Linked DNA regions of Homo sapiens. The protein of the gene in region 2 interacts with the protein of the main gene of each other region in a biochemical or structural test. Each region holds a gene or a part of one and is shown on either strand. Other genes may lie near its edges.

What was found.
Region 1: the proteins of GFI1 (region 2) and ARIH2 form a complex in vitro, tested with the Homo sapiens proteins (one study listed by BioGRID).

The regions. Positions count from the first base shown.
Region 1 is NC_000003.12:48,963,842-48,970,881, forward strand, and holds part of ARIH2 (E3 ubiquitin-protein ligase ARIH2), read left to right. Parts: intron 1-1,077; coding exon 1,078-1,141; intron 1,142-3,283; coding exon 3,284-3,434; intron 3,435-4,219; exon of another isoform or gene 4,220-4,336; intron 4,337-4,692; coding exon 4,693-4,814; intron 4,815-6,753; coding exon 6,754-6,863; exon of another isoform or gene 6,864-7,000; intron 7,001-7,040.
Region 2 is NC_000001.11:92,472,505-92,476,927, reverse strand, and holds the end of GFI1 (zinc finger protein Gfi-1), read left to right. Parts: intron 1-720; coding exon 721-899; 3' UTR 900-3,885; downstream 3,886-4,423. UniProt on the Homo sapiens protein: Transcription repressor essential for hematopoiesis. Functions in a cell-context and development-specific manner. Binds to 5'-TAAATCAC[AT]GCA-3' in the promoter region of a large number of genes.

The DNA.
Region 1 (7,040 bases), on a different chromosome or scaffold from region 2:
CATTTGTGCTGCCTCCTCCTTTGAAATGCCTGTTAAGTCTTCTCCCCATTTTTTATTGAGTTATTTTGTTATTCCAAATGGATCCTTCCCCCTTCTCCCATGTCCAGTTCCTAGAACCAAATGGATTTTTAGGAGTTTTGTTTACTCTGAATACTGATCCTTTGCCAGTTATTTTTTTTATTTTTATTTTTATTTTTATTTTTTTTAAAGACAGAGTCTTGCTCTGTCTCCCAGGCTGGAGTGCAGTAGTGCAGTCTCTGCTCACTGCAACCTCCACCTCCCAGGTTCAAGCGATCCTCCTGCTTCAGTCTCCCAAGTAGCTGGGATTACAGGCATGAGCCAACACTCCCGGATAGGGTTTCACCATATTGGCCAGGTTGGTCTCAAACTCCTGACCTCAAGTGATTTACCCACCTCGGCCTCCCAAAGTGCTGAGACTACAGGTGTGAGCCACTGCGCCCAGCCATATATATAGAATTTTTTTTTTTTTTTGAGACAGAATCTCGCTCTGTCTTGCAGGCTGGAGTGCAATGGCACAATCTCAGCTCACTGCAACCTCTGCCTCCCGGGTTCGAACGATTCTCTTGCCTCAGGCTCCCAAGTAGCTGGGACTATAGGCACGTGCCACCATGCCCAGCTAATTTTTGTATTTTTAGTAGAGACGGGTTTCACCATCTTGGCCAGGCTGGTCTCAAACTCCTGACCTCAAGTGATCTGCCCGCCTCGGCCTCCCAAAGTGCTGGGATTGCAGGAGTAAGCCACTGCGCCTGGCCTAGAAGTTTATATATTGAATTATCTTCCAGCTTATGGCTTGGCTTTTGACTTTGGTGTCTTCTGATGAATTGAGGTTCTTAAATGTAGCATGATTTATTGGGCTTTATATTTTTTATTATTCCTTTATATTTTGCATTTTCTGTCTTGAGAAAAAAAGTCTTTGTACTGAGATAAAAGGAAGCTTAGTTCTGTGAGAAAGTAGAGACAAAGATGCTCTAAACATCTTTCTCTGTCCTGTTATTGTTCAGGGGTAAAAATGTCTTTAGCTTCTGATTGCCTTCATTTCTGCTTTTTGTTTTGTAGATACAAGTCCAATTCTGCTCAACTGCTTGTTGAGGCTCGAGTTCAGCCTAATCCATCAAAACATGTGAGTGTCTATTACTTGAATGAGGCTTCTCCTAATTGCATGTGGTTCTTGCTTTGGCTTGCAGTGTCCTTAAGAGCTATCTTTACTTGGCTGGGTGCGGTGTGGCTCACGCCTGTAATCCCAGCACTTTGGGAGGCTGAGGCGGGTGGATTACGAGGTCAGGAGATCGAGACCATCCTGGCTAACACGGTGAAACCCTGTCTCTACTAAAAATACAAAAAAAAAAAATTAGCCGGATGTGGTGGCAGGCACCTGTAGTCCCAGCTACTCGGGAGGCTAAGGCAGGAGAAAGGCGTGAACCCGGGAGGCGGAGCTTGCAGTGAGCCAAGATCATGCCACTGCACTCCAACCTGGGCGACAGAGCGAGACTCTGTCTCAAAAAAAAAAGGAGCTCTCTTTGCTTTGTTTATAGTTCAACATGCCCACAATATTTGTTCTAGTATTGACTTAAATCTTCTGTTATGGTTTGAAAAGTTTCCTTATAGATAGGGACTAAGTCATTGCCTGTCCTTGGGCCCTCTCCAGCCCCACTTTCCTCTCTGCACTTTCAGCCTGCACTCCATTCCTTCTGGGTGCTTTGGTGTGTCTGAGATTACTGCATATGTCTTCTGTTTGTGCCTTCCCTTCCTAGAATGTTCAGACTCTGGCTCCACCTTTGCTTATAGGGAGGGAATTCACCTTTAAAGACCCCAGTCCGGCCAGGCACGGTGGCTCACGCCCATAATCCCAGCACTTTGGGGGGCCGAGGCGGGCGGATCACTTGAGGTCAGGAGCTTGAGACCAGCCTGGCCAACATGGTGAAACCCCATCTCTACTAAAAATACAAAAATTAGCCAGGCCTGGTGGCGCATGCCTGTAATCCTAGCTACTTGGGAGGCTGAGGCAGGAGAACTGGTTGAACCCGGGAGGTGGAGGTTGCAGTGAGCCAAGATCGCACCCCTGCATGCACTCCAGCCTGGGCGACAGACACTCCATCAGAAGAAAAAAAAAATCTAAGCCACCTCTGACAAAGCCTGTCTCCTGGATCATTCCCCTGGAAACTCACCTAATTATATCTATAAACTTTTACATGTGTGTTATAGTGATTAACTCATATCATTTTACCACCCCTACCATAGAAGCTGTATTTTAACAATGCATAGCAATTTCCTGTTTATCTAGGAGCTAAACGAACATATGTCGAATATTTTTTGAATGAGGGCCATGCTAAAATAGATCTTGGAAGGCAGAATTGGGGCTCAGATCACCACATAATTTCTGCAGCCTCTTAAGACAAAGGTTTCCAGAAGCAAAATGGATAAACATGAGAATCCAGTTCTTTTTCTCAACTTGTTTTTTTATATTCCCAGTTAACTAAAAAGAACCTAATGTTCTTGTAAGTGGACTTTTCCATTGGTTTGTGGTTTTAGCCAAGGTCCCCAGATTGTCTTTCTCTGCCAGTTTGTGTAGCATGATGTGGATTCTGGAGTTCATGCTATACAGTTATTTGCACACATTCTAGAAGAGTTTCTTCCCCTAGTTGGTGTCTCCACATCCCCCCCGCCAATATTAATTACATGTGACATCTGGTGTATTAAGGATGAGTTGTAACTTGGTAAAGGCTGTAGTATTTTGTGGTTTGGGTACGTCGATATAGTGAAACCACTGTCCTTGACAAGTAAAACTACAGTGTTGGCTGTTAGAAGATTTATAAACTCATCCTCTAATAACCTTTGTGACTAGGTTTCTAGTAGTTGTGAGGGGCAACTCTGCTGTGCTTAACAGGGGTAGTCTACAAAAGAAACCTGATAGCTTCTAAAAGAATTTGGACTAAGTGACTTCTAAGGACCTTGGCAATTCTGAAACCCTGAGTTTTTCAGTCTGCCATTATAAACCACTGTAAGTTCTCATTTCAGCCTTGTTTCTGCCTCTGAATCCTGGTGATTTTGCAAGCCCAGCCCAGCTGCCACCTCCTTCAGGAAGCCTTCCTGGTATATACTTTTAGCTTAGTACCCTTGGGACTCAGAGTCCACACATTGCAGTTGAGCTCTGATACTTGTTGCAGGGTGAGGATCACTTTCCATGCACCCGGCTGCATGAGGTACCCTTATGGCCTTCTGGACCTGACTCCTCTTTGGCTCATGTGGCTCTGTTTCTCTCCAGGTTCCCACATCCCATCCCCCTCACCACTGTGCAGTGTGTATGCAGTTTGTGCGAAAGGAAAACCTACTCTCTCTGGCCTGTCAGCACCAGTTTTGCCGCAGCTGCTGGGAGCAGCACTGCTCAGTTCTCGTCAAGGACGGCGTGGGCGTGGGTGAGTCTGCCACAAAACTTATAAAAAGCTGGCATGAAGTGTTTATCTTTGACTCTGCCTTTTCATGTACTCAAGTAAACTGAGTATTTTCTTCTGAGCCTGATTGGGGTTTTTATCATCAGAACTAGTGATTTTCAAATACATCCATACAAACAGTGACAAAGTTTTCCCCAGTCCTCAGCAAAACGAGAAAACTAAATATACTGTTGTAAATGTTGGCGTGAGTGCAGAGCTACCTTCTCTCACCTTTTGGGAGAACGATCCTTTAAGCTGCCTACCTTGATTCCACAAGTGGCAGCCATAACTCAGAAATGCCCACAAGAGTTTGCTGCTATTTAGGTAACATAGCACAAATCAAATTTGATGATTAGTTACAGAAGTATTTGTTATACTGTGATTTGATGATACTGAAACACATTAGCATCGCATTAATTGATATCTGCAAAGTCCCACAATTGGTGATAATCACCTCTAAATAATGTTAAACATCACAAAACTCAATTGTTAGTCAAGAACCTATATAAGGATTTTTTAAATGGTTTTGTTATTTAATGGTGCCGTTAGTGATACAATTTGGGATAATATTTTAGTTTCATTGCTGTGAAAATATGCTAATTTCTCTCTTCTCTTTGAATAAATTCTGTTGCTTGAAGAGTTTCTTTTATGCAACTTGGATTTGTTGACAGAACTAGGTGGGCAAGTTGTGTCTTCTGCAGTATGCTTGTCCATCACTTTTTTGGGTTTGTTTTTTTTTTGTTTGTTTGTTTGTTTGTTTTTTGAGACAGTTTCGCTCTTGTTGCCCAGGCTGGAGTACAATTGCATGATCTCAGCTCACCACAACCACTGCCTCCCGGGTTCAAGCGATTCTCCTGCCTCAGCCTCCTGAGTAGTTGGGATTACAGGCATGTGCCACCACACCTGGCTAATTTTTTTTTTTTTTTTTTTTTTTTGAGACGGAGTCTCGCTCTGTCGCCCAGGCTGGAGTGCAGTGGCGGGATCTCGGCTCACTGCAAGCTCCGCCTCCCGGGTTCACGCCATTCTCCTGCCCCAGCCTCCCAAGTAGCTGGGACTACAGGCGCCCGCCACTACGCCCGGCTAATTTTTTGTGTTTTTAGTAGAGACTGGGTTTCTCCATATTGGTCAGACTGGTCTCGAACTCCCGACCTCAGGTGATCTGCCTGCCTTGGCCTCCCAAAGTGCTGGGATTACAGGCATGAGCTATCGCACCTGGCCCCATCAGGTTGTTTTTGTTCAACAGGAGTCTCTTGCATGGCTCAGGACTGTCCACTCCGTACACCAGAGGACTTTGTGTTTCCATTGCTTCCCAATGAAGAATTGAGAGAGAAATACAGGCGCTACCTCTTCAGGGACTATGTGGAGGTATGGCCAGCCTTTGTTCTGCCCTCTGTCTTCCCGGGCCTACCTTCCATCAGAGGGTCACCACAGTTACTTACTTTGTAGACTAGGCTGACATTAAGTGATAGTGTTCAAAGAAAGCGCTCCATGGCTTTAAAAAAAGTTTGAAAACCACTGGAGTGATAGTGAAGAGTACAGGCCTTAGAATCAGACACACCATTGTGTGAAACTTGGATACTTCCTTTCTTTGTGACCACTCTTTTTTTTGCGTGTGTGACTGCCTTGCTGTGTTGCCTGGCTGGAGTGCAGTGGCGCAATCTTGGCTCACTGCAACCTCCGCCTCCCAGGTTTAAGCGATTCTCCTGCCTCAGCCTCCCGAGTAGCTGGGACTACAGGCATGCACCACCACTCGCAGCTAATTTTTGTATTTTTAGTAGAGACGGGGTTTCACCAGGATGATCTTGATCTCTTGACCTCATGATCTGCCCCCCTCGGCCTCCCAAAGTGCTGGGATTACAGGCGTGAGCCACTGCACCCAGCCTCTTTCTTTTTTTTTTTTTTTTTAACCTCTGAGTCTTGATTTTCTCTTCCATAGACAGACCTCCCCACCTTATACATAGTTGCTTAAAGAAGCTATTGTGTGTCAGCAGGTGAATACAAATTAGGCATATTTAGGAGCTGCTGTTAGATTCAGTTTCCTGTGTGGTTGAGCAGAGAGAAGGGGTATTGCTTTTTGAGTAATTGGAAAACTTGTCCAGGATTCAGCGTGGTCACTTTTGGAGTCCTTTCCCTCTATTAGGCCATCTGCTAGGCCTGCTGATTCCATGCAATATAATTTTCTTTTCTTTTTCTTTTTCTTCTTTTTTTTTTTTGGAGACAGGGTTTTACTCTGTCATCCAGGCTGGAGTATAGAGGCACAAACATGGCTCACTGCAGCCTCTGACCTCCCAGGCTCAAGCAATCCTCCCACCTTAGCCTCCCGAGCAACTGGGACTACTGGCGCGCACCACCAAACCCAGCTAATTTTTGTATTTTTCGTAAAGATGGGTGTTTCACCATCTTGCCCAGGCTGGTCTCGAACTTCTGAGCTCAAGCCATTCACCCGATGCAGCATAACTTTCATCTTTGTCTTTTTTGCCTAAGCTTTTCAGATTAATTTATGGTCTGGGTCTTGTCATGCACATGCCGCAGGATAAACAGAAGGCCTTGTTCTTTATGCTGTTTGCTGCCTTTGAGGGTCATTGAGCTCCTCAGATATATGTTTTTTTTTTTTTTTTGAGATGGAGTCTCACTCTGTCACCGAGGCCGGAGTACAGGGACACGATCTCAGCTCAATGCAACCTCTATCTCCCAGGTTCAAGCGATTCTGCAGCCTCAGCCTCCTGAGTAGCTGAGGTTACAAGCTCGCGCCACCACACCCAACTAATTTTTGTGTTTTTTAGTAGAGACAGGGTTTCACCATGTTGGCCAGGCTGGTCTCAAACTCCTGACCTCAGGTGATCCACCTGCCTCGGCCTCCCAAAGTGCTGGGATTACAGGCATGAGCCACCGCGCCCGGCCTTGTTATTTTTTATTTTTTTCAGAGACAGAGTTTCACTGTCATCCAGGCTGGAATGCATCGGTGCAATCAGCTCACTGCAGCCTGAAATTTCAGGCCTCAAGCAGTCTTCCCACCTCAGCCTCCTGAGTAGCTAGGACTATAGGCAGGAGCCACTATGCCTGGTGCAATTCTATATAAACTTAGATCATTCCAGTGAGTTGCTACCTGGTTTAAGCTAAACGTTCTAAATTCCTCTTTAATATCTGGCTTACGTTTGGTCTTCACATCCTTTCTGAATTTATATAGCCCCTTCGTATAAGTCATCAGCTGGGAGAACAGAAAGTGTTTGAATATTCAGGGGGTTCTGATTTTTAGACAGCAACTAAGAGATGTCCTCATTGTTTCCTCTTGGTGTGTTCACAGAGTCATTACCAGCTCCAGCTGTGCCCTGGTGCAGACTGCCCCATGGTTATTCGGGTACAGGAGCCTAGAGCTCGCCGAGTACAGTGCAATCGGTGCAACGAGGTCTTCTGGTAAGAGTGAGTGTGAGTGCTGAGCAGCCCTGGGCTCATGCCCCATCCTCCAAAGCACCACTGCTGTTGCTCCATGTGAGGGCGGCACTGGAAGAGGCAGGGTCTCTGAGCCAACAGAACAGCTGTGCTCCAAGTGGGTAGGTTTATGTCCAGCATCTCATATTCCACTAGGTCTTC
Region 2 (4,423 bases):
AGAATCATGTGATTAACCCCATAAAATTAAGGAAAAATCAAGACAGTAAAGTATCAGCTGCCTTAATCCTTTGTGGCCCAAATGTGGATTTTTAAAATAAGATATTGAAAAACGTATCCTGCACATGTACCCCGGAACTTAGAAAGAAAGAGAGAGAGAGAGAGAAATAAAGAAAGAAAGAAAGTCCATGTTAAGATGTTTTTTCAGATATAATCTGCTGTCCTTCAAGAACAAGAAAGAAGACGGGCTCACTGATCCATACAAACTAACACCCACTTGGAAATTCAGATTTGAAAACTTCCTCTGAATTAGAACGGAGTCACACGGTTTTAGGACAGCTTCCCCCTCCCCTTCCTGTTGAACATCTGCTCTGAGTGTTCATGGCTTATAAAGTCAGGGGAGTCCTCCCGGGGTAGATTCAGCTGGGGAGGGCACGTGGCCTTTGCTCTGTTTCCGTTTAGCAGGAAACCGTTTGAGGCCTTTGGCTGGGAACCCCCCTTCAGAAAGTCTCCCTTTCACCTGGTGCCCCCATGGTGCTTCCAGGGACTCGCATTGCAGGCTGGGAGTCAGTTCAGGTTGCAACACGTCACCCTCCAAGTTGCTTGAAGGCCTTAGACTGTGGTGCAACCAGCTGCTGCCAAGAGCATGTGGGTCACAGTGGGTCCCCTCTAGCTTTATCATAGACTCATACTTTCTCCCCTCCCCCTCCCATCCCCACAGGTGAGAAGCCTCACAAGTGCCAGGTGTGCGGCAAGGCATTCAGCCAGAGCTCCAACCTCATCACCCACAGCCGCAAACACACAGGCTTCAAGCCCTTCGGCTGCGACCTCTGTGGGAAGGGTTTCCAGAGGAAGGTGGACCTCCGAAGGCACCGGGAGACGCAGCATGGGCTCAAATGAGCACCCTGGCTGGCTGCAAGCAGCAGCTACACAACACTACAGAGGGCAGCCTCCCTGCTTGCCACCACTCTGCTCCCTGCTTGCCTCCACTCCCTTCTGACTTTCCAGACCCCAGGTCCAGTCTGCAGATCCTACCAGGTTGCTCCTCCTTCGCCTTACCTCCTGGAGCTGCCAGAAGAAATGAGGTACCTTTTCAAAGTGCAGCCGAGAGTGAGAACCAAGTGACTCTCTAGGCTTCGGACACAAATAGGCTCCTCTACACCTGAAGACAAAGGCAAAGTCAAATGGGGACCAGAATAAATCTTAGACCCCACAGTCCTTCCCATTTCCAGCCCTAATCTACAGACAGGAATGCCCTTCAGGTTTCTTCCCTCCCCCCTCTTGACCTACCCCAGATATTTGTGTGGAAGAGGAGGAATCACCATTTACAAGGTGGACAAATGCTAATATTTTTATCTAGAAAGAAGAGTGAGTGTTAACTTTTATTTTTTTCCTTCTGGGGGGTCTGTTGACTCCTTTCTTTTGGGTGCTGCCTATAAATCTTGGAGGAATCATTTCTCCTCCTCAAAAACTGATTCAGAAACTGACTTGGGGAAGGAATTTAATACTTTGAAGTCATGAGATGCACCATCGAGGCTACCCCCAAGAAGAAGCAGAAGAGAAGTTGGTAATGAGAGGGGATTAGAGGTCCTCCCTTCAGTAGGGCTGTGAAAACCTCATCACTGGAGGTAAAAGCACAAGCAATGCCTGTGGACAAGATGTCATTCATTCACTCAGCAAATGTTCATGGATCACCGGCTACCAAGGTACCAGGCACCATGCTAGGTATTGGGGAAGAGAGACTGAAGTCACAACCCCTGACTGCTCCTCAAAAGCTAACGGTTGCACCTCCAAGTGGCTGGGTCTGTTCTTACTCTTGGAGGGAATTCTGAGAAGACAGCACAGAATTGTAAACCTTCCCTTTTGACCCTTTTGGATTTTATCAGGTGTAAACAAAAAGCTGAACAGTTACTTCAAAGATATGTGTGTATATTCAGTTTTTTATTGTTAAGCTGATATTTTAAAGATTTCTGAGCTAGCAGGCATGTGGGAAGGAAGGCTCTGTCTTCAACTCTTTGACCCTCCATGTGTACCATAGAGGGGGGAAAGGTGGTATTTTCACTTTGATGAGGTTGGTAAATGTTTTTAGATCTTCTGGTAAGCATTATGTTTGTTAATACATATTTATTAGAGTGATGTTTTAAGTTAATAAAGTATTAAGAGTATTACAGATTGCCTTTCCTTTAGGCAGGGAATTTGGGGAAGACCTTTGTTTTAGTCTGTAGGGGGAAAGCTGGCACTGAAGGAAACTGCAATGGAGTATAAAAGTGAAGCACACAAGCTAATATCCAGAAGAGTAAAATCCAATTGCTCGGGTTTCCATATACTTTCTCCTTTGCTGCTACACCTCAGAGATACTTCTTTCATCTTCTTTCATAAGAGAAAAACTAGGAGGTGTACAAAACTAAGCTACTACCTTGTAGAGCCCCTGATGGTTCCACAGGCACGTAAGTAAGCTCTTTCCTCTGAAAATGTCAACATATTTTTTTAGGGGCCTGAAGGCTCCCAGATGAATAAAGAAATCACAGGTCTTAGGTCTAGGTTTTAGTTTTAGTCACAGCTCTGTCACCAACACATCATGTGACTTGTGTAAATCTTTTGACTTCCCCGATACTGGTTTCCTTGATCAAGTAATACGGAGACAGCTCTGTCATTCCTGTCCAACCCTGACCGCTTTGATTCTGTGGAGACTGGAAAGGAAAAAAAGTGTGAGATTGGTTAGCTGCCTCCCCTAATGCAAGTCACAAATCTAAAGGCCCATGAGGATCTGGGTTATTTCTGGTTCTGTCCCACCTGTGGGAGTTTTTTGCATAAGTCAATCCTTTAAGAGAATGAAACCAGAATAAAATCCTGGCCAAAATCCCTACTACTAGTGCTTTAACACCTCCCAGCCAGACATTCAGGGTATGCATGCCCCATGGTGAGAACCAGCAGATTGCCCATTTCCAACTCAAATTGATTTCACACATATAATTGAGCACCCAGTATGTGCTGGGCATTCTTCTAGGGGGTGGAGATATAGCAGTGAGGACAATGTCTTACGAAGCTTTATTTATTCATTGTTGAATCCTCAGTTCCCAGAATAGTGCCTGGCACACAGTAGGAGATTAATAAATATTTACTGAGATGTTAAGTGAATAAACAGAAAATAAGCTCCTGCTTCATCCTAGGGCCTGGCTCTGCTCTCTACAGCACAAAGGGAAGAGAGATTGCTTGACAGCCTGGGAAACAAATAGAATCCACACGACTTTCTCTCCAGGTTGGCAGGAAAGGGGGGCTTGAATGCTGCTTTTCTCTGGTTTCTCCAAATCTCAGTCCTTGGCTGTCCTCACCTGATTTCCAGCACCATGTCTTTCCATGTCAGTTTACTCTCATTCAGAATTTAAATTCGTTTACTCTGTAATGGAGTTTAAGATAGTTTTTCAGAACTGATGGATGATGAACAGTTGCAGCGTCCAGGAACCACTTCCTAGTGTCCTGGGAGACAATCCTCCCAGTGAATGAAAATGACAAAAACATCCTTCCCACAGAAGTCACCCTGTGTACTGGTTGGTTATTTCCAACCTGGTTTGAAAAGTAAAGAAGTTGCACTGAGGGGTAAGTAGAACTGATTGAAATCTAGGTGCCTGTGCTGTCCTGCTCTTCCCTTATGACGTTTAGAACATTTGGTCCATTTTTGTTATCCCTGTTTATGCTCTAAGTGAGGAATTGTAATTTTGATGTTAACTGTATGCCTTTTTTTTTTTTTTTTGGTAAAAAATGTATCTTGATATCCCCAGTTCAGAATCAAAACAAATTACTGTGCCTGTTACCGTGTGAAATTTGAAGATTGCAAATATCTCTCTTAATGTTATTACTTGACTCCATTAAAAATAGATTGTGAATATTCCATGTCACATTATTCATGAGGCAGGCTCTATGCCTTTTGTCTGCTGGAGTAACAGTAGAAAGGGTAACAAGAGACACCAGAGCACACCTTTGTTTCTTTCACTAAATTTTTAATAACACCTCCAGCTAGCCAGTTGGTGAAGCTCAGCTCTTGCATAAAAGTGGAAAAGCACAGCTATCTCTGAGAAGACCAACTCTTTCAGCGCTAATTTGAGTTTGCGTTCATCTACACCAGACGTGATTAAATTACCTATCAAGTGTGCTGAGCTATCAGGATTCAGGCCACGTAAAAGGTGAATTTCATCTGATTGATTTGAGACACGGATGGAACAATTGAGTTTTAAAAGCCCCGCCTTAATTAAAGGGATAGAAGAGTATCACTCCCCGGCGACTTCTTGACTGCCATTGCCCTTGAAAACTGGGTGGTGATAGTGATTTGACCCAAGTCACTTTGTTGTGTGCCTGTTTGTTCAACCTGATCATTTCACAGAAAGAAATGAACTCAGAGGAAATCCTGAAAGGACTTCACTACTTTT